Linked DNA regions of Homo sapiens. The protein of the gene in region 3 binds, or shares a complex with, the protein of the main gene of each other region. Each region holds a gene or a part of one and is shown on either strand. Other genes may lie near its edges.

Region 1 (7,915 bases), on a different chromosome or scaffold from region 3:
TCCCCATCTCTTAAAAAAGAAAAAAAGAAAAAAAAAAAAAAAAGAACACCTACTGCCCAGGATGTCTGCTCACCCCCCAACACCATGTCTCAGATGGACACCCCCCATAACATCCCCATCCCTCACCCTGATTCTTCTTCATCTCTTCCCCCTTATCCTGTTCGTTCTCCAGGTTAAGTATCACCATCTGACATCCCTATATGCACCTGTTTATTTGTTTATTGTCTGTCTTTCCCCCTCTCCTAAGAAGTAAGCACCAATGAAAGCTGTAAGTTACTACTTACAGGTTACCTGTGCCACTTTTATTTTCATATTGTCTGTAGATGTGAGAAATGTTTTGAAGAAAGAATCATTAGGACTTGAGTGAAAGAGTTTTGAGTTTGGGTGACTGGTAGAGAAAGATGGGGCCCTTAAGAAACTATGGCAGAAATTGGGAGAGGAGAGGACATTTGGAGGGGAGGACAATGAGCTCACTTTTAAACTCATTGAGCTCTAGCTGCCATACTGCAGTGGACAATGGTGTCTTGGCCTTCCCATTATCCAGGGAGTGCAGTGGCACGATCATGGCTCACTGCAACCTCGACTTCCTGGGCTCAAACAGTCCTCCTGCCTCATGCTCCCGAGTAGCTGATACTACAGGCACGTGCCACCATTCCCAGCTAATTATTGTATTTTTATTTTTGTAGATATAGGGTCTTGCTATGTTGCCCAGGAGAAGGAAGTGACACTTGAAGCCACAAAAGATAACTTCAACTCACCAAACCAAAGAACACACCAAGAGAATGGCAGGGAATCAAAGAAACACCCAAAGTGACTAAGAACGAAAAAGAAAGGCAGGCCAGATCAGGTGCTAAGGATGTTTAGTTCCTTGGCAAGGCAGAATGTATTCAATATCAGGCCAGGTATCATGGTTCACGCCCGTAATCCCAACACTTTGGGAGGCTGAGGCAGGAGGATTTGTTGAGCCCAGGAGTTTGAGGATGCAGTGAGCTATGATCAGGCCACTGCATTCCAGCCTGAGCAACAGAGTGAGATCTTGTCTCTTAAAAAAACAAAAAAACAAAAAACAAACCAGAAGCCCCTTTGGGAGCAGAGGATTGGGAATTATCTTCAATCACTTTGATTCACACACACTTCCTGCTCCCTAATGAATCTCATGAGATCCTTTGAGGCTTTTCCTGAAGACAAAGTTTTAGGAGGCTGGGCATGGTGGCTCACAGCTGCAATCCAAGCACTTTGGGAGGCCAAGGAGGGAAGATTCCTTGAGCCCAGGAGTTCAAGATCAGCATGGGCAACAAAATGAGACCTCTACAAAAAGTTAAAAAAAAAATTAGCCTGTCATGGTGGCAGGTGCCTGTAGTCCCCGCTATTTGGGGAGCTGAGGCAGGAGGATTGCTTGAGCCAGGGAGGTTGAGGCTACAGTGAGCCATGATCGCACCACTGCACTCCAGCCTGGGTGACAGAGCGAGATCCTATCTCTCCTCTTTTTTTTTTTTTTTTTTAAGCTGGAGTTTTGCTGTTGTCACCCAGGCTGGAGTGCAATGGTGTGATTTGGGCTCACTGCAACCTCTGCCTCCCAGGTACAAGCAGTCTCCTGTCTCAGCCTCCCAAGTAGCTGGGATTACAGGCGTGCACCACCACGCTAGCCTAATTTTGTATTTTTAATAGAGACAGGGTTTCATCATGTTGGCCAGTCTGGTCTCAAACTCCTGACCTCAGGTGATCTGCCCACCTTGGCCTCCCAAAGTGGTGGGATTACAGGCGTGAGCCACCATGCCCAGCCTAGATCCTATCTTGTAAGTGAAAAAAAAGTTTTAGGGACAGCCATGGAGATTTCTCAGGCTCTCTGAGGATGAAGGATCTTTGCCCATGGCTACAGGATGAATGTGAACAAGGTAGTTAATGAATGCAGTCCTCTCCATTGTACCCCAAAGCTCTCAGGCATAAATCAAAATGCCTGAATTCTTCAGAGAGTGCGGCTGGAAACGCAACGTTACATGAAATGTTTCCAATTTGCTTTCAGCCAAATTACCTCTTTTGCTTTAAAGGGCAAACTTGTTTTCTTTGATTATGATGACACCCATCATTTCTTGACAGCTCATTTGGGTGAACAAGATAAAGCCCGTGGAACTAGGATTGAGGGGAAATGCATCTGACTCTGACGACAAAAATGACTGGAGAATCTCTTTTCCTTGAATCCTAATATGATCATTTCATGTCCTTTTTAATGCCACCAACCTTAATATTTAAATCATTTCCAACTTAAGCATCTCCGTTTAAAATTCCTGCCCTGAGAGTGAAGCAAATTGTTAATGGATGGGAAACTTTAATTGGATATTCCCTTTATTTGTCATTAATTCTGCTGATGAACTTTATAAATGGAAATATATCTTTATCATGCAAATTATACCTCGTCTTCATTCAAACAGGCTTGTTGGATATTTTATTAATTTTGCTCTTAGAATATTTTGAGGAAAAAAAAGATTTGAACTAAATTATATATTTTTTCCCCCTGGAGAGAAGGAAAAAACCCAACACTTAACAACTACCCTACAAATCCAAACTGGCAAGTGGAAAAGTCAGAGGGTGCTAAAAAAAAAAAAAAAAAAAAAAAAAAAACCAAAACAACTGGAGTGTGGGAAATGGATTTCTCTCTCTCTTTTTAAATTCACTCTTAATTTAGGTTCGGGTTACATGTGCAGGTTTGTTATATAGGTAAATTTCATGTCATGGGGGTTTGGTGTACAGATTATTTCATCACCCAGGTAATAAGCATAGTACCTGATAGGTAGTTTTTCCATCCTCATCCGGATCTCATTTTAAGGAATACCATTTTAACATTAGCTAAGTAAGTTCTTGAGAACTTACTGTGTAGCAGACACTGTTCTGAATGCTATATACGAATTAATTCCTTTAATCCTTGCAACAACCCTATGAGGTAGGTGCTATTATTACCTCTATTTCACAGATGAAGAAAGGGAGACAGAGAGAGAGGTTAGATGATTCTAGTTAGTTTACAGCTAGGAAGTGACAGGGCCTGCACCCCATCAGCACTATTCTGTCCAGTCTCTTGATTTTAAGATTGACTTCTGGCCGGGCGCAGTGGCCCACGCCTGTAATGCCACCACTTTGGGAGGCTAAGGCAGGTTGATCACTTGAGGTCAGGAGTTTGAGACCAACCTGGCCAACATGGTGAAACCCTGTCCCTACTAAAAATACAAAAATTAGCTGGGCATGGTGGTGGGCACCTGTGGAGGCTGAGGCGGGAGAATTGCTTGAACCTGGGAGGTGGAGGTTGCAGTGAGCCGAGATTGCAGCACTGCACTCCAGCCTGGGTGACACAGTGAGACTCTGTCTCAAAAAAAACAAAAACAAAAAACAAAAAAACCAAGGTCTTGCTATGTTGCCCAGGCTGGTCTTGAACTCCTGGGCTCAAGAGGAATTTTCTTTTTAGCCTCAGAAAGATCTCACTACCCTCCAAACCTCTAGCTTTCTTCCGAACTCTGTATGTTTTATCTGAGGCTTTCAAGTCTAGGGAGGGGGAAAGTGAGGGGCTAGAAAGAAGCAACAGATTCATGATGAAACCTGCTATCCCAACCAACTACTATACAGTAGGTGCTCAATAAAGAAATCACTGTTGCGGTTGGGCTCAGTGGCTCACACCTGTAATTCCAGCACTGTGGGAGGCCGAGGCAGGTGGATCACCTGAGGTCAGGAGTTTGAGACCAGCCTGGGCAATATGGCGAAACATCTCTACTAAAAATACAAAAATTAGCCGGGTGTGGTGAAACATGCCTGTAATCCCAACTACTTGGGAGGCTGAGGCAGGAGAATCACTTGAACCAGGGAAATGGAAGTTGCAGTGAGCTGAGATCGCACCACTGCACACTCCAGCCTGGGTGACAGCGTGAGACTCCGTCTCAAAAAAAAAAAAAAAAAAAAAGAGAAAAAAAGAGAAAAGAAAAAGAAATCACTGTTGAATAAATGAGATGGCAAACCCAGATTTACCAACAGGCTTGTCTCCTCACTGGGAGATGCTGGCATAATAGGATAATGTTGTTTTGCAAAATATATATGTCCTGAATTGGAGCCAGAAAAGAGAGTCATATTTTCATGATAGAACTGTAGGCCAACAATTGGCCTATGAATTCTTTTGCATCCCTTTACTCAGGGCTTGGAATTTTTTAAACAAAAGTTTTAAATGTAATGAATTTTTTACTTTTTCATAGTTGAGTGGTTTTTTTTTTCTTTCTGTGACTAATTTTGAACTATTACCCAATCCTCCTCTCTTGTTCTTTTTGAGAACCTGTGTTTTATGGTTTACAACTGGTCTGTAAAAGATTCCCAGGCTAGGGCTGCAGCAATGAATGCTGGAGGTATTGACAGTTGGGACCCTGTTTGTAATGCTGGCTGGGTGGCTGCAGGCTCCAGGATTATCTGGTGCTTTGGAGACAGAGGACATGGGATAGTGACTCAGATTGGGAGGGAACATGCCCCCCGGGACAGATTTCTATGTTGCTGGTTATGATGAAATACTTTCCACTGACCACAAGCTATATAGCCTTGGGCAAGTCCACTTGATCTTCTGGGCTTTCATTTCCTCATTACTGAAGTGGAAACGAAAAACACATTTGGAATGCAATTCCAGTGTCTCACCACTTCCTGGCTGTGTGGCTTTGGGTAAGTCGATTAACCTCTCTAAGCCTTGACGTTCTACCTGTGAAATGGGACACAGCACTGTTGAGGGAATGAAATGAAATCCTTGCTCAAAAGTGTTACGCTTTTATGACTTTTAGTACTACTTCAAAAATTATGTTAATATCAACACTTTAATGTTTCTTAAAATAGATGTGCTTTTCCACAAAATAATATGGTATATGTTTTTGTATCAAAGGCTTTATAAAAAGTCAAAACAGAAGCAGTTTTTACTCCTTTTTACTATTTTGTTTTTAATTTTGCTGGTTTCTGCATTATTCATGTTCTCCTGTTAGTGACCGAAGAAGACCAAGTTCCCTTAAATCACTCCCCATTGTCCAGTCTCCCCTCCTTATCAATCAGTTCATCAGGAATTTTAATTCCTCTTTTGGTTACAGTGTCACTTTAGAAATGCTTATTTCTGGTTATATCTAAGTGTAGACAGCATCACTTTGGCAGTTTCAGACAGAAGGAAGAATTTCCTAGTAGTGAATTTAGATTATTCTATAATCAACTTCTCCAACTTGAAAAAAATATTTAACTACTACACACCTATTAGAATGGACAAAATCTAGAACACCGACAACTCCAAATGCTGGTGAGGATGTGAAGCAGAAACTCTGTCATTGCTGGTGGGAATGCAACATGGTGCGGCCACTTGGGAAGACAGTTGTTTTCTTACAAATTTAAACCTGCTCTTACTGTACGATCCAGTAATTGCACTCCTTGGTGTTTACCCAAAGGAGTTGAAAACTCATGTGCACACAAAAACCTGCACACACAAAAAGCTTATGGATATTTATAGCAGCTTCATTCACAACTGCCAAAATTTGGAAGCAACCAAGATGTCCTTCAGGAGCTGAGTAGATAAACAGTGGGGCATCCCGACAATGGAATACAGGATTATTCAGTGTTAAAAAGAAATGAGCTGTCAAGCCACGAAAAGACATGGAAGAAACTTAAATGCATATCACTAAGTGAAAGAAGCCAATCTGAAGAAGCTGCATATGGTATCACTCCAACTATATGACATTCTGGCAAAGGCAAAACTATGGAGATAGTAAAAAGATCAGTGTTGTCTAAGGGCTGGGGGAAGGGAGGGATGAATAGGCAGAACAGGGAGGATTTTTAGGGCAGTGAAAATACTATGTACCTTACTACAATGATGGATACCATCATTATACATTTGTCCAAATTCACAGAATGTACAACACCAAGCGTGAACCCTTATCCCTTATGTAAACTATGGAATTTGGATGCTGCTGCTGATGTGTCAATGTAGGTTCATCAACTGTAACAAATGCACCACTCTGGTGGGGGAGGTTGACGGTGGGGCAGGCTGTGCATGTGGGAATAGGGGGTATGTAGGAACTCTCTCTACCTTTCTCTCAATTTTGCTGTGAATCTAAAACTGCTTAAAAAATAAAATCTTAAGGTTGTAACCCTTTACTGGGCAGTGAAATCAGTTTGCCAACTGGGACTAGAGTTAAAATTAAACGAAACAGGGTTGGGTGCGGTGGCTCACTCCTGTAATCTTTGGGATTACAGGACTTTGGGAGCACTTTGGGAGGCCGAGGTGGGTGGATCACCTGAGGTCAAGAGTTCGAGACCAAGCCTGGCTATCATGGTGAAACCCAGTCTCTACTAAAAATACAGAAATTAGCAGCGCATGGTGTTGGGCACCTGTAATTCCAGCTACCTGGTAGGCTGAGGCAGGAGAATCGCTTGAACCCAAGAGGCGTAGGTTGCAGTGAGCTGAGATTGCACCACTGCACTCCAGCCTGGGCAACAGAGAAAGGCTCTGTCTCAAAAAAACAAAACAAAAAACAGCCTATCTCAAACCCGTCCTGCTCTCAGGCACTAATGTATAATGTTCCTTTTGTCAGAAACCAACCCCCCAGGAATAATTTCTCCCTAGATTAACAATTTCTCATTCTTTAGGTCTTAGCTCAATGGCTACCCCTCCTCAGACTGGAACAGACAGCACTTTACAACCTGTGGAAACTCTCTCACCTTTCCTGCATAGTACTAATCACACGTGTAATTTTTTTTTTTTTACAGCTCTATTGAGGTATAATTTACATTACCATAAAATTCACCCATTGTAAGTGTAAAACTCAGTGACTATTTTTGTAAATGTATCTGAAGTTGCCACATCACTACAATCCAGTTTTAGAACATTTCTATCACTCCCCCCAAATTCCCATGAGCTAATCTGCAAACAATCTCTGCTTCCACTCACATTTTTTGTTGTGGTTGTTTTGTTTTTGAAACTGAGTCTCGCTCTGTCGCCCAGGCTGGAGTGCAGTGGCGTAATCTCGGCTCACTGCAACCTCCACCCCCCTGGTTCAAGCAATTCTCGTGCCTCAGCCTCCCAAGTAGCTGGGATTACAGGTGCGTGTTACCACGCTTGGCTAATTTTTACGTTTTTAGGAGAGACAGGGTTTCAGCATGTTGCCCAGGCTGGTCTTGAACTCCCGGGCTCAAGTAATCCACCTTCCTTGGCCTCCCAAAGTGCTGGAATTGCAAGCGTGAGCCACTGCCCCTGGCCTCCACTCATATGTAACTTTCCTGGATAGTTCATATAAATGGGATCATGCAGTATGTAATTGTTTGCATCTGACTTTTTGCTTAGCACAGTGGTTTTCAACCTGGGGCAACTTTGCCCTCCAGAAGACATTTGGCAATAATCGGGAGATGCATTTGCTTGTCACAACTGAGAGAGGCTACTACTGGCATCTTGTAGGTAGAGGCTCGTAATATTGCTAAATATCCTACAATTGGCAGGATAGTTCCCCACAACAAAGAATTTTCTCACCCAAAACATCAATAGAGCTGAGGTTGAAAAACCCTGACCTTTTTTTTTTTTTTTTGAGATGGAGTTTTGCTCTCGTTTCCCAGGCTGGAGTGCCATGGCGTGATCTCGGCTCACTGCAACCTCTGCCTCCTGGGTTCAAGCGATTCTCCTGCCTCAGCCTCCCAAGTAGCTGGGATTACAGGCATGCGCCACCACGCGCAGCTAATTTTTTTTTTTTGTATTTTTAGTAGAGACGGGGTTTCTCCATGTTGGTCAGGCTGGTCTCAAATTCCCTACCTCAGGTGATCTGCCTGCCTTGGCCTCCCAAAGTGCTGGGATTTACAGGCGTGAGCCACCGTGCCCGGCTGCCTTTTTTTTTTAATAGACAGGGTCTTACTCTGTCACGCAGGCTAGAGTGCAGCA
Region 2 (7,915 bases), about 32 Mb from region 3:
CCAGTAAGAGTCTAGAGCAAAGAGGACACCAGAGCTGCCTAGCATAGAATGGGCTGCCCCAGGCAGTACAGTGCCCTGATGTTAGGAGTCCATCATGAGAAGCTGGCTGACCACCAGTGGGAGATTCCTGCAGGGCCAGGTAGAGGTTGGGGGTGATTGTGAGGTGGACCTAGTTGGGGGGTCCATACACACATCCCCTCCATGACCTATGCCTCTTTTCCCATCCCTAGCAGTCCTTTCTCGATAGCTGAGCCCAGGGGATTCAGGGCTGAGGACCCACCATGAGGCGCTCCTCCTCCTCCCTCAGCCGCTTCTTCTCCTGGGCTCTGATCTCCTGCTGCTTCTTCACCTCTTGCTCCTGCTCAAACCTGCTGCACAGGTCCCTGGGGGGTTTGATGGTATACTTCTTAGGCAGCACCTTTTCCTCCTTCTTGATGGTCTGTCACCCAAAAGAAGAGGAAGGGTCAGTGGCCCTGCATCCCCCCTTTACATGTGCAACTCCAAGAGGTGAGACCCGCCCAGCCAGTCCCTCAGACCGGGGGATGGCAGCTACTCCTGTAGCCTGTGGCCTTTCTGGCTCTAAATGCAGCTCCAGCTCCATGACCTTGGGAGGTCCTCTCACTTCTCTGAATCTCAGGTTCATGGTGTGAGAATAATAGGAACTTTCTCCCCAGCCTCTTTCTGAGAAGTAAAGACAGAAAAAATGCCCGAGGGAGGTACCTGTCAGGGCCAGGAGCTCAGGAGGTGTGGCTTTCTCCTCTTCAATCCTCACCACCCATCCTAGCCATGACCTGGGTCTGATCCAGAAGTGGGGAGAATTGTCAGGAGTTGGATTTTTCAGATCTTGTCATCGGAGGGCCTCATATGTTGACTTTAACAGTTTGCTGGGCCAGGAAGGAGAAGAAACCGTGTGTGTGTGTGTGTGTGTGTGTGTGTGTACGCTTGCGTGTCTACAAATGTGTGCTAAGTGGCAAGAAGTATTCCCAGGAAAGAGCACTGCAGAGGCTGCAGAGGTGGGCCTGTGATAGTCATGAAGGAGAAATAGTGAATCTCCAGCGTTTCAAGTTCCCTGAGTCTCCATTTTCCTGCTGTGTGACTTTGGCCACATTATGTTACCTTTTGATTTCATCAACATACTCATCTGTAACATAAAAGTGACAATATCTACCACACTGGGCCATCGTGGGGAGCAACAAGCACAATGGACATGAAAGCGGATTTTAAACCCGAAAGTTCTCTGCATCTGTTTGTTATTGATATAATGTTAATCATTAAGCTTTTGGCTGAGCTGAGAGCTGAGATGCCCGGGTGGGAGCTCAGAGGCTTTTTTTTTTTTTTTTTTTTTTTGGAGCCAGAGTATCCCTCTGTTGCCCAGGCTGGAGTGCAATGGTGCGATCTCAGCTCACTGCAACCTCCACCTTGCAGGTTCAAGCGATTCTCCTGGCTCAGCCTCCCGAGTAGCTGGGTTTACAGGCATGCACCACCACACCCAGCTAATTTTTATATTTTTAGTAGAGACGGGGTTTTGCCATGTTGGCCAGGCTGGTCTGGAACTCCTGCGCTCAAGTGGTCCACTTGCCTCAGCCTCCCAAAATGCTGAGATTACAGCCTCCCAAAATGAGCCACCGTGCCCAGCCAGAGGCTTTTGAAGCCAAAAGCCATGGCGGAGCTCGTGCTCCATCTTCTCTTGGGGAGGTGGGCCTGAGAGAGCAAGGCTCTTCTTGTGCTTCCCCTTCTGTCTCGCCCTTCTCCCACCAGAGCACCCACCCTGGGGTCCCTGGGTGCTCACCCAGGTATAACCCAGGTACACAGTGATCCTGCTGGATGCCTCAGGTCCCTGGATCCCCATCTCCAAGCTGCGGACACCCACAGGAGCCTGACCCTGATCCCAGAGTCCTGGAATTAATCCACCTCATGAAGAGCATTTTCTGTCTGTAGCATGACTATTTTCTAAATGTAAAGAGATGCATTTGTGATTCTGATATTCATTCCAGAGTATTTCTTGTGTCTGTAGCAGCCTGTGGTCCTTATGGAGATCTTAATGAGCAGATCTAAAAACACAGCCACCAGCCACTGAACAGTTGGTGATTTTTTTTTTTTTTTTTTTTTTTTTTGCTATTAAAAAGGGGCCTTGAGGGCCAGGCACGGTGGCTCAGGCCTATAATCCCAGCACTTTGGAAGGCTGAGGCGGGAGGATTGCTTGAGTCCAGGAGTTCACGACCAGCCTGGACAACATAGTGAGAACCTATAAAAAACAAACAAAATTAGCTGGCCGTGGTGGTACTCGCCTGTAGTCTCAGCTACTTGGGAGGCTGAGGCAGGAGGACGGCTTGAGTCCAGGAGGTTGAGGTTGCAGTGGGCCGAGATCATGCCACTGCACTCCAGCTTGAGTGACAGAGTGGAAGAGACCCTGTCTCAAAAAAAAAGCAGGCTTTTTACCTCGGGAGTGTGGGACTGAGAACCAAATGTCTGTTCACTTGTCTGTTATTTTTTATTTCTTTTATTTATTTTTTGAGATGGAGTCTTGCTCTGTCACCCAGGCTGGAGTGCAATGGCGCAATCTCAGTTCACTGCAGCCTTTGCCTCCCGGGTTTCAAGTGATTCTCCTGTCTCAGCCTCCTGAGTAACTGGGACTACAGGCACATGCCACCATGCGTGGCTAATTTTTTTGTATTTTTGATAGAGACAGGGTTTCGCCATGTTGGCCAGGCTGGTCTCGAACTCCTGACCTCAAGTGATTTGCTCGCCTTGGACTCCCAAAGTGCTGGGATTACAGGCATGAGCCACCGCACCTGGCCTATTTTCTTATATAAAAATGGCTGGCTGGATTTTTATCAAATGCATAGGGTAAATTTGGAATCGTTTGACTTAAGATATAAGCTATGTGGCATTCATAAAATTTACCAAGCAGGGAGCATAGTAGCTGAAAACTGAGTTACAACAGACAGAGAAGAACAGCCAGCTTGGAAAACTGGGCTGGATGTGTTAAGACACCGAGGACATAAATCACTGGTGGTTTGAAATATGAACTCCAGGGCAGCGGAAGGGCTGGTGGTGAGGGATCTGTGTCCGCGTGGCCAGGGCTGGGGATGAGGCGGCAGTGATGGACGTCTCTAAGGATGGCACGACAGCACCGGGAATGTTCATCCTTTGGGAAACCCGGGCAGCTCAAGCCCGACCATACCTCCTTGGGCTTCACAGTGAGTGGGCACACCTCCCGCGTCAGGTCCATGTGGCACAGGTCCAGCGAGCCGTAGCCGTTGACGCAGTAAGCATCATAGCCAGAGCCGATAAGCATGGAGCAGAGCAGCGTACTGAAGTCAAAGCAGTTCCCCTTCTGGTACTTGAGCACAGTGGTCGAGGAGTACAGGTGCGAGGGCTGGTCACAGTGGGACGGTCAGCACAGCTGGGGCCCCGCTGCCCCAGCCTGTCCTCCCCACCGGTCACAGCCCACCACCTGTCAGGGTGGGGAGCCAGGACCAATGCACAGGCTGGACCTGCTTTGGGCCCCTAACCCTTGTGGGGTCAGGGAGCCTGCTAAGAATGGAATGACAACCAGACACCATGCCATTCACATTTGCCTGTCATTTGAAGGGGCTATGGACTTCCTGATAGGGGGAAACCTTCTGGACTGTAGGAGTGTCTGATCTAATGCCCTCTGACTGGTAAGTTTACTGTTTTGCTCCAATGCTCCCCCTTCCTTCGATACCCACCTTTCCTCCTCCTCCCTTTATCAGTTCTCCACTGTTGACCTTGCCCTTTCTTCCTCCCTCCCTCTATTCTGAAGGAGAAGCTGACGAATTTGGTCAGAAGCCCAAAGATGGGGTTAGGGCCACGGGCAGCCGGGCCTCCCCTCTCTCTTTCCTGTACCGCTTGAAGCCATGGCAGGGAAGCTCTGAATGCAAAGGAGAAAAGAGGTGGGAACCAGAAGCCCAGGCTTGCTGTGTGTCCTCAGGCAAGTGGCTGTCTCTCTCTAGGCCTGTTTGCCCTTAGGGGCCCTGAGAGGCTGTACCCTGAGCCTGGCTGAGCTTCCTTTTCCCAGACCGTGCCTGACATCCCATTGAAGGAAATCATGTACACAGTGATCCGTTTCCAAGGCAAAGTGCCTTGAATAGGCTTAGGTCAGCAAACTACAAAAACCCCAGGATATACTAGGCCCCTGCTTGAATAGCCAATGCCTGTTTGTCAGCCTTCTCCTTCCTCCCCCTTACCTACCGCCTTAGTTGCCCTCACTCAAACCAAAAAAGTTTAGCCTAAGATAAAAGTTTACTAGTCTGCAAAATAGCTCGCTTTGTCTGTTCTTATCAGCCTGCCCAGCTACTCAGGTCATAAGTCAAATACTTAAAGAGCCCCTGAGCTAACTAGGATTGCAATGCATTGTGGGTTGCAATAAAATGCTGCAAAACAACCCTAGAAAAAACACCTAAAGCCCCTGCCTAACAATCAATAGGCGATGTCTGGGAAGATTGTGACCCCATAGTACTCAGCCTGTGAGGAACCAGGGGAGGGACCTGCGCACTAGGGGATAAACTGCTTGTTAAAACTATGCTGGGTGTGTCTGCCTATCAGACACCCAATCTTGCAAGACCATCATTAAAAGTCTCACTTTCGCTGTTCTCCAGGTCTCTAAGTCCATTCTTTTTTTTTTTTTTTTTTTTGAGAGAGTTTTTTGAGAGTTTTGCTCTTATCACTCAGGCTAGAGTGCAGTGGTGCCATCTTGGCTCACTGCAACTTCCGCTTCCCAGGTTCAAGCGATTCTCCTGCCTCAGCCTCCCCAGTAGCTAGGATTACAGGCATGTGCCACCACGCCCTGCTAATTTTTGTATTTTTAGTAGAGACGGGGTTTCGCCATGTTGGTCAGGCTGGTCTCAAACTCCTGACCTTGTGATCTGCCCGCCTTGGCCTCCCAAAATGCTGGGATTACAGGCATGAGCTACCACGCCCGGCCTCTAAGTCCATTCTTTGGGTTTGGATGGGTGAGTTTGTTTCTCACACCATCTTAGTCCTGGTGGGCTCAGGCATGCAGCCTGTGAGTGGTGCTTACCGGCTTGAGAGGGTCAGGCAGGGGCACCATGGTGAGGAAGTCGGAGACAAACTGGGCACAGCTGTCCCAGTTGTAGAGCTCGGGGTAGGGCATCAGTGTGGGCCGGAGGGTTGTGCTCACGAACTTCTGCAAGGAGAGAGATGGTGCCAGTGGGGTCAAGGCAATAAGAACTTGTGAGATCAAGCTTGGGGCCTTCCTTGAATCCACAGGGGGACCCTAGAGGCCTGAGCAAATGCAGGAGGCCAGGCCCACATGACCTGGGGTGGCAGAGCAGCCCTTGGCTGGGAAGGTGATGCCCAGATCTGGCACATGGCAGCCATCAGTGGCGCAGTGGCAATGACTGGGAGGCCCTTATCATGTTGCCAGCACCCGGAGACAGCACAAGCATATTCTGGATCTGGACTTTGAAGGGCTTTGAAGTTTTGCCGCCTTCAACCCCTAGGGCATTGTGGAGACACCTGAGGCCCAGAGCAGGCTTGAGAGCTGCCTGAGGTGACCCAGCAAGTCAGGGCTGAATGAGGAGATCAGGTCTGTTTCCTGGGGTTCCTGGGAGCACTGTGCTCTCCTCCCAGGAGCGATGCTCTCCCTGGGGCCTACAGAGGTTCTGGGCTGGGGCCAGCTGGCGACCAGTACAGTCTGAAGCCTCAGAGGTCAGCCTGTCCAGGGAAGGACAGAGAAATAAGACAAATTGGACCAGGACAGGCATAAGAACCTAAGCTCTGGCTTTTTCCTTCCAGCCCTGTGACCCAGAGCATGTCTCTGAGCCTTTCTGGGCCTCAGTTTCTCCATCTGTAGATGGAATGACATGGGATTCATCCAGGGGGTGGGAAACAGCTGCCCACGAGCTGACAGGGACCCACAGACCCGCTTTATTTGGCCCACGTGGCAATGTTTAGCATTTATGTCAGCTGCCAGCATTTAAAAACCAGAGACTCCCACACAAATCCCGAGTCTCCTCTTGATCAGGTAACCCCAGGCCTGCAGTTTCCCCGCAGCAATCAGCAGCTGCCTCTTTAGGCGGGGGCATGGGGTCTCCAGACCACCACCGCCCTCCAGGGTAATCTGCACTGAGCCTGCTGAGGCCTGCTGGCGTTCGACTTTATGTTGCCCCCAGACTAGAAGCGCTCTGGCCCACAGGAGGTCCGTGATTTGGCCCAGTGACCTTGGAGAACCTGCCCCACTTCCCTGTGCCCTCTGCTCTCCAGCCCCAGGCTCCCCAGCCCTGCCCTCAACATGCCAGCCTTACGGGCACTTCACACTCGTTCAGGGGGTGCAGGAAGAGGGGCACGCGGTCCGGGCACAGATGGCTGTACTGGCGGGAGAAGTTGTCTGCCACCTGCAGCAGGTGTTCCTCCTTGGGTGTGTTGGTTTTGTAGGAAATGGGCAGCTTGGAGATGTCAATAGTGTCCTTGGTAAAGGCCCTGTGCCACAACAGGGATGGCATTAGGGAAGCCATGCCTGGCACACAGGAGCCCTGGTTCCACTGAGTTGCCATTGGCTCTACCCCTTCCTCATTTAATCCTCACGGCTACTGAGAAGGCAGGTATCATTAACATCTGCACATTTTCATATATATATTTAAGAGACAGGTCTTGCTCTGTTGCCCAGGCTGGAGTGTGATAGCACAATCATAGCTCACTGCAGCCTTGAACTCCTGGGCTTAAGTGACCCTCCCACCTCAGCCTCCCAAGTAGCTGGGACTATAGGCACCACCACACCTGGCTAATTTTTGTATTTTTTGTAGACATGGGTGGGGGGGTCTTGCTATGTTGCCCGGGCTGGTCTCGAACTCCTGGCCTCAAGCGATCCTCCCACCTTTTCCTTCTAAAGTGCTGGGACTACAGATGTGAGACACAGCGCCTGGCCAGCACCTGCACTTTTAGACAGATAAAGGCACTGAGGCACCGAGAGGCTGAGTGACTTGCCCAAGGTCACACAGCTAGTTGGGAGAGCATGGACACTCGGCCCAGGCCATTTGAAAGCAGAAAGCCTTCACTCATAACTGCTTCCCTCTATCTCCTGGTCACCCTACCAGACCAGGCACCAGCACTCTGCCTGGGTCTCCCTGTGCCCAGCCCCGGTCTACCCTTGCCAGGGCCCCCACCCTGCCACACTCACGGGAGCTCCGCTGAGACAGTGATCTGGATCTCTGACAGCTTCTTCTCCAGGTCTCTGAGCGTCTCCTGCTTTAAGGTGATTTCCTCCTTCCGCACCTCAACTGGCCTCATCATTTTCTCCATCCTCGCCCATTCAGCCCACTCGGCCGCCTCCTCCCGCTCGGCCTCCTCCTCCTCCTCCACCTTCTCCCTCAGGACCTCCATTCTGGAGCGTCTCTGGGTGTCTGGAGATGGAATGTCTCTGTGGGGAAGGGTAAGTATACTCCATGGCCGACTGTCAGCCCAGGCAGGAGCCACCAACACCATCTGGGCATCCCCGGGAGGCCTGGGAGATGGTTTTGAGGAGGTGTCGAACACATAGGGAGTGATTCCCTCTTTGACTTCCTTTCAAACATGGAGAAAGTCTCTGTTTGGTGCTACCCCATCTGTAACACCTTTCTAATCCTGGCAAATATTCCTTTACAACAAAGACAAAGCAGGCCTCCGGTTGGAAGCCATCCTCAGGACAGGACAGGGAAAGGCACGTGTCGATTTGCTTTTAGTATATTTGACAGTTATCTTTTTTTTTAAATTTTTTATTTTTTTGAGACAGGGTCTTGCTCTGTCACTCAGGCTTGGAGTGCAGCAGCACGATCATGGCTCACCGCAGCTTCAAACTCCCAGGCTCAAGCAATCCTCCCACCTCAGCCTCCCCAGTAGCTGAGACCACAGGTGCACACCACCACACCTGGCTATTTTTTTTTTTTGGTAGAGA
Region 3 (7,915 bases):
GAGTACCTGGGACTACAGGTGCCCGCCACCACGCCTGGCTAATTTTTTTGTATTTTTAGTAGAGACAGGGTTTCACCATGTTGGCCAGGCTGGTCTTGAACTGCTGACCTCAAGTGATCCGCCCGCCTCAGCCTCCCAAAGTGCTGGGATGACAGGTGTGAGCCACTGTGCCTGGCTCCACCTAATGTTTTCATTCAGGACTAAATGAAACATAAATGAAGATAAATGGGCCAGTCGCGGTGGCTCACGCCTGTAATCCCAGCACTTTGGGAGGCTTAGGTGGGCAGATCACGGGTCAGGAGTTCGAGTACAGCCTGGCCAACATAGTGAAACCCCGTCTCTACTAAAAATACAAAAAATTAGCCGGACGTGGTGGTGGGCACCTGTAATCCCAGCTACTCAGGAGGCTGAGGCAGGAGAATGGCTTGAATCCGGGAGGCGGAGGTTGCAGTGAGCTGAGATCGCACCATTGCACTCCAGCCTGGGCAACAGAGCAAGACTCTGTCTCAAAAAAAAAAAAAAAAAAAAAAAAGAGAGTTCAAGACCAGCCTGGCCAACATGGTGAAACCTCGTCTCTACTAAAATACAAAAAAAAATTAGCCAGGCGTGGTGGCGGGCACCTGTAGTCCCAGCTCCTCGTGGAGGCTGAGGCAGGAGAATTGTTTGAACCCAAGAGGTGGAGGTTGCAGTGAGCCAAGGCAGCCTGGATGACGAGGGAGACTCCATCTCAAAAAAAAAAAAAAAAAGATAAATGGATTTAGGTTTTAATGTTTTTAAAAAATAAATAAAATTTCCACATGAAATTTGTAATTTTAAAAACGTTACATAGCTGGGCACAGCAGCAGTGAACTCCTGTGGTCCCAGCTCCTTGGGAGGCTGAGGTGGGAGTATCAGTTGAGCCCAGGAATTGGAGTCTGCAGTGAGCTATGTGATCACACCACTGCACTCCAGCTTGGGCGACAGAGCAAGACTTTGTCTTTAAAAAAGGTTACCGAGACATGTAGACACAGAAAAGCATGGGCTGAAGACTACTGGGAGTAGCAAAGTCAGCAGGATAGGATATGGAAATTTGTTACCTGCTTGAGTGCCCTGTAAATGGGTGGCCAGACAGAACTGCTCCTGGTGTCATGCGTGGTTTCAGCAACTTCCACAAGGGGGTGGGGTTAGAAGGTTCTCTCCCATCCTTGTCAAAGTTGCTAAAACCACGCACGACGCCATGTGCAGTTCCGTCTGGCAGCCCATTTACAGGGCTCTCGTGGTGGGTGCTGTCTGCCCAAGCTTTCTTGACCAGGCTTCTCTGAAGGAAGTTTCTCTTTGAAAGAAAGGAAACTTGTGGTTGTCACAACCGATCGTGGTTATGGAGGCATTTCTCCCTAAGCTTACTGAATGGTGTCTTGCAGGTCTTTTCCATGGTGGTCACCAATGTTGCCGCCAGCATGGTAACATTTGGCAGTGTGGTATTGAGGGTCTTTCCTCTGTTTTGCATCCACAGCAGAGGTCTTTACTTTTTACCAAGGAGTGAGTGGGTTTGGAATGGGTTCCCCCCTCTCTTAGTTTTTGGAGACGGGGTCTCGTTCTACTGCCCAGGCTGGAGTGCGGTGGTGCACCATAGCTCACTGCAGCCTTAAACTTCTAGGCTCAAGTGATTGTCCTGCCTTGGCCTCCCAAAGTGCTGGGATGACACGTGTGAGCCACTGCGCCTGGTCACCGTATACCAAGGAATGAGTGGGTTTGGAATGAGTTCCCTCTCTTTTCTTTTTTTTTTTTTTTAAGTTACAGTTTGCTTTTTGAGATGGAGTCTCACTTTGTTGCCCAGGCTGGAGTGCAATGGTGGGATCTTGGCTCACTGCAGCCTCTGCCTCCCGGGTTCAAGCGATTCTTCTGCCTCAGCCTCCCGAGTAACTGGGACTATAGGCACACACCAGCACACCTGGCTAGGTTTCCTCTCTTTTTTTTTTTTTTGAGATGGAGTCTCACTCTGTCGTCCTGGCTGGAGTGCAGTGGTGTGATCTCGGCTCACTGCAAACTCCATGCCCCAGGTTCAAGCCATTCTCCTGCCTCAGCCTCCCGAGTAGCTGGGACTACAGGCGCCCACCGGCACGCCCGGCTAATTTTTTTTTGTATTTTTAGTAGAGATGGGGTTTCACTGTGTTAGCCGGGATGGTCTTGATCTCCTGACCTCGTGATCCGTCCACCTCGGCCTCCCAAAGTGCTGGGATTACAGGCGTGAGCCACCACGCCCGGCTCCTCTCTTTTCTAGAAGGAATGTTCTCCTTCTCAAAAGGAAGGTTTCTCCTTTGTGCTTCTCCAAATGCAACAACAGGATGTGTGTGTGGTAAAGGGTGGGAACACTCAGGGCAATGATGTGCTCCAGGTGAGCAGAAGGGAGAGAGGTTCCAGAACCTTCTCTGCCAAATGTTCCTGGGAGCAAATCAGAGCCAGCCAAGAAGGGGAAGCTGTTAGAGTCTCTCTTACCCCATTATTTCCACCAAAGGCACCGAAAAAGAAAGGGAAGAAAGGCAAAGCCAAAGGCACCCCGATTGTCGATGGGCTCGCTCCAGAGGACATGAGCAAGGAGCAGGTGAGCAGAGCGGGCTGTGGCCCAGTCCCCGGGTGGGCGTGGGCGGGCACCACGCAGGGTGCCTACGCCGAGTGTCCATCTTGCCATGTGGATCCACCCTTCTGTCCAAGCCAGAACACGCCCCCCGCGTGGCCCATAATTCCCATCAGCGGCAAAGCTTTCGGCTGCACCATGTCTTTTCAGAAAGGTAGTGCAGCCTGTGAAAGAGCTTTGTAACAGGGTGGTAGGAGTGTGGAAGGACATGCTTTTCTGATCTAAAAGCTGTTTTTAATTTCGTGTATTCTCTTTCAATCTTACCCTTTTTTTGCACCTGATGTGTATAGACTTATCGTAGAACACACATGTAGCATTCTCCTTTATTTTATTCACCATTAAACATTATGTCAAAAAGGAAGTTTTTGAAAGAAGGATGATTTACTTCAAATCACATCTGAATCTGATTAATCGTTCATTTTTTTTTTTTTTTTTTTTTTTTTTTTTGAGACGGAGTCTCACTCTGTCGCCCAGGCTGGAGTGCAGTGGCGCGATCTCGGCTCACTGTGAGCTCCACCTCCCGGGTTCACACCATTCTCCTGCCTCAGCCTCCCGAGTAGCTGGGACTACAGGCACCTGCCACCACGCCTGGCTAATTTTTTTTTTGTATTTTTAGTAGAGACGGGGTTTCACCGTGTTAGCCAGGATGGTCTCGATCTCCTGACCTCGTGATCCACTCGCCTCGGCCTCCCAAAGTGCTGGGATTACAGGCATGAGCCACCACGCCTGGCCAGTCATTCATTGTTTTTGATAAAAGTCCCAACAAGGAGTAACAGCATCAGGGCTGCCTTTTTCTTGTTGCTTATTTTGGGGAGGAGGTGATGTTTTTATAGTTTCTTTGTAGGAGTTAGTTTAAGTCTCTTCTTCATTTGGATGTAGTTAAGGGCTACAGAACATAATTACATAATTACAATTTTACCTAAAAGGCTCCTGGAGACGGCAGTGTGTGGCAAGCACGGTGCACCCTCTGGCCTCTGCCCTCATGGACGACTGCCTGTGAGCACCTGACATGGGACATGAGGGCTGTGTCAACTCTGTGTTATTGTTAATAAATCTTACCTTCTTTTGATAGTTGTAAGATAAAAAATCAATACGAAGGAGACTGAAAGAGTCTCATGACCTGAAGTTGGAGCTAGGCAGAGGTCCTTGAACAATGGTAAAGAATGGCTTTATTTTACATGCAGGCAAACCATTGGCAGTTTAAGCCAGTGGCTAAGCAGAGAGGTGATGGGGTCAGGTTTGTGTTCTGGAAAGATGTCTGGAGCTGCTGGATGGAGAATGGATTGAACACTGCGTTGTCCCAGCATGTGAGCTGCTGCCCGTCTCCCTGTCCGCTTCCCATTCCTGTGGAGACAGGCCTTGTGGGGCAGTGGCCATGGAGCCTACGGGGCAGCCTACGGGGCAGGCTACGGGGCAGCTTACGGGGCAGGCTATGGGGCAGCCTACGGGGCAGGCTACGGGGCAGGCCCTTGCACTGCACATCGCACGTTGAGCCACAGACTCAGAAGGCTTCTTCAGGGTCCAGGCAGGTGGGGAGGGATGGGGGTGACCTGGAGACTCCTGCCCCGCAGCAGAGGACAGTTTCATCTGTTCACTGGGGAGTGCCTTGTGGGCCTAGGAGTTCAGTGCTGTTTTTTTCTGATTTTCCAAGAGAAGCTGGAAATCTGGATATTTATAAGAAATCTGAATATTGAGTGATGGCAAAATCTCAACACCATGTGAGCCAAACAGACCAGTCAGGAGCCCTGGTTCAGGCTCTGCCCAGGAGCCTCTAAAGGTCTGTGACGTGAAGACATTTGTCGTTGTGCCGAGGCACTGGTTGGATTCGGGGGTGCGTGTCTCCCTCATGTCTGCCCGGCATCCTCGGCTCAGAACCCCTCCTGCTGCTCCTTCTTGTTTGCTCGTTGTCTTGTCTTCTTTTGAGGTGAGAAATGTGTTTTCCCTGTGGGGAATGTGGTGTTGAGAAAGAAAAAGGCTCACAGTAAGTGGCCTGGGGCTGTGCCCGAAAAGTAACTGATTCTGACGGAATCTCGCTGTGTGGCCCAGGCTGGAGTGCGGTGGCGCGACCTCGGCTCACTGCAAGCTCCACCTCCTGGGTTCACACCATCCTGCTGCTTCAGGCTGCCCAGTAGCTGGGACTGCAGGTGCCTGCCATCACGCCCGGCTAATTTTTTTGTATTTTTAGTAGAGACGAGGTTTCACCGTGTTAGCCAGGATGGCCTTGATCTCCTGACCTCATGATCTGCCTGTCTCTGCCTCCCAAAGTGCTGGGATTACAGGTGTGAGCCACCGCGCCTGGCAGTAACTGATTCTTAAGGGAAATGAGCTCCCGAGAAAGCTGGAAGCCTGTCCTACATTTTTTTTTAACCTATTTGCAGATTCGCAATTGAACCCTCTTGAGATTTTAGAGTCTACTGGTTTTGTATATTTTTTGCTTAACATTATATCTTCAAAGGTGAATTTTTTTTCATTTAGCATTATGATATGAATTTGTTTAAATGCTGCTACATCATTTGCATATTTTTTTTGGGTTAATGTGATATTTCTCCTAGTTGATATACTCTAATTTTTCAACCATTTCCATATTTATTTATTTATTGTTTAGAGACAGGGTCCTGCTCTGTCACCCAGGTGGAGTGCAGTGGTGTGATCACGGCTCACGGCAGCCTTGACCTCCCAGGTCCAAACGATCCTCCTACCTCAGTCTTCTGAGTAGCTGGGACTATAGGCATGTGCCACCACTCCTGGCTAATTTTTTTTTTTTTTTTTTTTTGTAGAGACAGGGTTTTGCCATGTTGCCTAGGCTGTTCAACTCTGGGGCTCAAAAGATCCTCCCAAAGTGGTGGGAGCCACCATGCCTGGCTGTTTGTGTATTTTTTGAGACAGATTCTCACTCTGTCACCCAGGCTGGAGTGTAGTGGCATGATCATAACTAACCGCAGCCTCAACCCCCTGAGCTTGAGTGACCCTCCCACCTCAGCTCTCCCAGTAGCTGAGACTATAGGTGCGTGCCATCATGCCTAGTTAATGAAAAAAAGTTTTTGCAGAGATGGGGTCTTGCTATGTTGCCCAAGCTGGTCTTCAGCTCCTGGGCGCGAGGGATCCTTCAACCTCAGCCTCCCAGAGTGCTGGGGTTGCAGGCGAGAGCCACCGCGCCTCGCTTATTTCCCTGTTTAAACTGGTCTTAGGTTATTTCCTTTTTGATATTTTTGCTGTTGTAATAATGGTGTGGGTAATATCTTTGAGCAAGATGCTCTTATATTTCTTTTGAGAAATTTTTTAGGCATCAATTCTCAGGAATGGATGAAAGGATCTAGTTATTTTATGATTATTGGCCAAATTGAAGAGAATTCTGCCACCTGCTGAATGCATTCTGTCTCCGGAGCTTCCTAGCCTTATATTTTAACTTTTTACATTTAGCTGTTTATTTTTAGGTGAAGTTGAGTCCTCCCTCTTTCTTCCTTGCCTTTCGCCGGCCACACGCCCCGTTGCCGTGCATGGGCCCCTGCTCAGTGCCTCACCTGACCCACTGCACCTGGCCAGGTGGAGGAGCATGTCAGCCGCATCCGGGAGGAGCTGGACCGCGAGCGGGAGGAACGAAACTACTTCCAGCTGGAGCGGGACAAGATCCACACCTTCTGGGAGATCACACGGAGGCAGCTGGAGGAGAAGAAGGCTGAGCTGCGGAACAAAGACCGGGAGATGGAAGAAGCCGAGGAGAGGCACCAGGTGGAGATCAAGGTGAGTGGGGCCGGCCTGCACGTGCTAACCTGGTCACCACAGAGCCCCAGAGGAGCTGGATCCAGTGAGGGTGCAGGTGGGACATTTTCTGTTCTTGGCTTTGGGAGTCACAGCCTTAAAGGTGTTTTTTATAAAAGCCTGAGGGAGAGACCCTGCAGGTCCTGAGGGTTTAAAATGCTGCCTCCACAACATGGAAGGAATATGGGCTCTGGGGGCAGACTGGCCTGTTTGCAACTCAGCTCTGCCACTTAATACCCCATGAGCTGGGGATGCACCTCACCTCCCAGCCTTGGTGTCCTGCTCTGTGCCTCAAGTGTACAGGTTTGCATAGGTGAACAGGCATGTGTAGCTGTGTAAAGGTGAGGCATGCAAGTGAGCAGGTGGATGCAAGTGAGCATGTGTGTGCAGGTGAGGAGGCGTGGCCAGGTGAGGAGGTATGTGCAGGTGAGGTGTGGGGAGGTGAGCACGTGGGGCAGGTATGTGCAGGTGAGCAGGTAGGTGCAAGTGACCAGGTGTCTACAGGTATGTACAGGTGAGGAGGTGTAGTACAGGTGTAGTGCAGGCGACCAGGTGTGTACGGGAATTTACAGGTGAGGAGGTGTACAGGTGACCAGGTGTGTACAGGTATGGACAGGTGAGAAGGTGTGGTACAGGTGTGGTGCAGGTGAGCAGGGGGGTACAGGTATGTACAGGTGAGGTGTGTTACAGGTACGGTGCAGGTGATCAGGTGTATACAGGAATGTACAAGTGAGGAGGTGTGGTACAGGTGACCAGGTGTGTACAGGTATGGACAGGTGAGGAGGTGTGGTACAGGTGTGGTGTGGGTGAGCAGGAGTGTACAGGTATGTACAGGTGAGGAGGTGTGGTACAGGTGACCAGGTGTGTACGGGTACGGACAGGTGAGGAGGTGTGGTACAGGTGTGGTATGGGTGACCAGGTGTGTACAGGTATGGACAGGTGAGGAGGTGTGGTACAGGTGACCAGGTGTGTACGGGTACGGACAGGTGAGGAGGTGTGGTGCAGGTGTGGTATGGGTGACCAGGTGTGTACAGGTATGGATGGACAGGTAAGGAGGTGTGGTACAGGTGACCAGGTGTGTACAGGTATGGACAGGTGAGGAGGTGTGGTACAGGTGTGCTATGGGTGACCAGGTGTGCACAGGTACGGAAAGGTGAGGAGGTGTGGTGCAGGTGAGCAGATGGTACTCCCATTGCCCTGCAGGTGTACAAGCAGAAAGTGAAGCACCTGCTATATGAGCACCAGAACAACCTGACAGAGATGAAGGCTGAGGGCACTGTAGTCATGAAGCTGGCACAGAAAGAGCACCGCATACAGGAGAGTGTGCTGCGCAAGGACATGCGGGCACTGAAGGTGGAGCTCAAGGAGCAGGAGCTGGCCAGTGAGGTGGTGGTGAAGAACCTGCGGCTGGTAGGTGTGGCGGGGGCACCTGGAGGCTGACAGGTTGTTGGGACGGCAAGCCTAGTGCTGCATGAACTCCTGTTTATTCAACAGCAACTGGGAATTCATATTTCTGCATAAGACTTTCTGCATTTTTGCAAT

What was found.
Region 1: DRC4 (region 3) and DRC10 share a complex: the UniProt entries of both Homo sapiens proteins name them as parts of the nexin-dynein regulatory complex.
Region 2: DRC4 (region 3) and DRC7 share a complex: the UniProt entries of both Homo sapiens proteins name them as parts of the nexin-dynein regulatory complex.

The regions. Positions count from the first base shown.
Region 1 is NC_000012.12:113,210,586-113,218,500, forward strand, and holds part of DRC10 (dynein regulatory complex protein 10), read right to left. Parts: intron 1-7,915. UniProt on the Homo sapiens protein: Component of the nexin-dynein regulatory complex (N-DRC), a key regulator of ciliary/flagellar motility which maintains the alignment and integrity of the distal axoneme and regulates microtubule sliding in motile axonemes.
Region 2 is NC_000016.10:57,697,400-57,705,314, reverse strand, and holds part of DRC7 (dynein regulatory complex subunit 7), read right to left. Parts: intron 7,403-7,915; 5' UTR 7,366-7,402; coding exon 7,163-7,365; intron 6,466-7,162; coding exon 6,291-6,465; intron 5,171-6,290; coding exon 5,045-5,170; intron 3,380-5,044; coding exon 3,185-3,379; intron 873-3,184; exon of another isoform or gene 721-872; intron 440-720; coding exon 281-439; intron 1-280. UniProt on the Homo sapiens protein: Component of the nexin-dynein regulatory complex (N-DRC) a key regulator of ciliary/flagellar motility which maintains the alignment and integrity of the distal axoneme and regulates microtubule sliding in motile axonemes.
Region 3 is NC_000016.10:90,025,142-90,033,056, forward strand, and holds part of DRC4 (dynein regulatory complex subunit 4), read left to right. Parts: intron 1-2,493; exon of another isoform or gene 2,494-2,494; coding exon 2,495-2,581; intron 2,582-3,757; exon of another isoform or gene 3,758-4,760; intron 4,761-6,034; exon of another isoform or gene 6,035-6,157; coding exon 6,158-6,355; intron 6,356-7,576; coding exon 7,577-7,783; intron 7,784-7,915. UniProt on the Homo sapiens protein: Component of the nexin-dynein regulatory complex (N-DRC), a key regulator of ciliary/flagellar motility which maintains the alignment and integrity of the distal axoneme and regulates microtubule sliding in motile axonemes.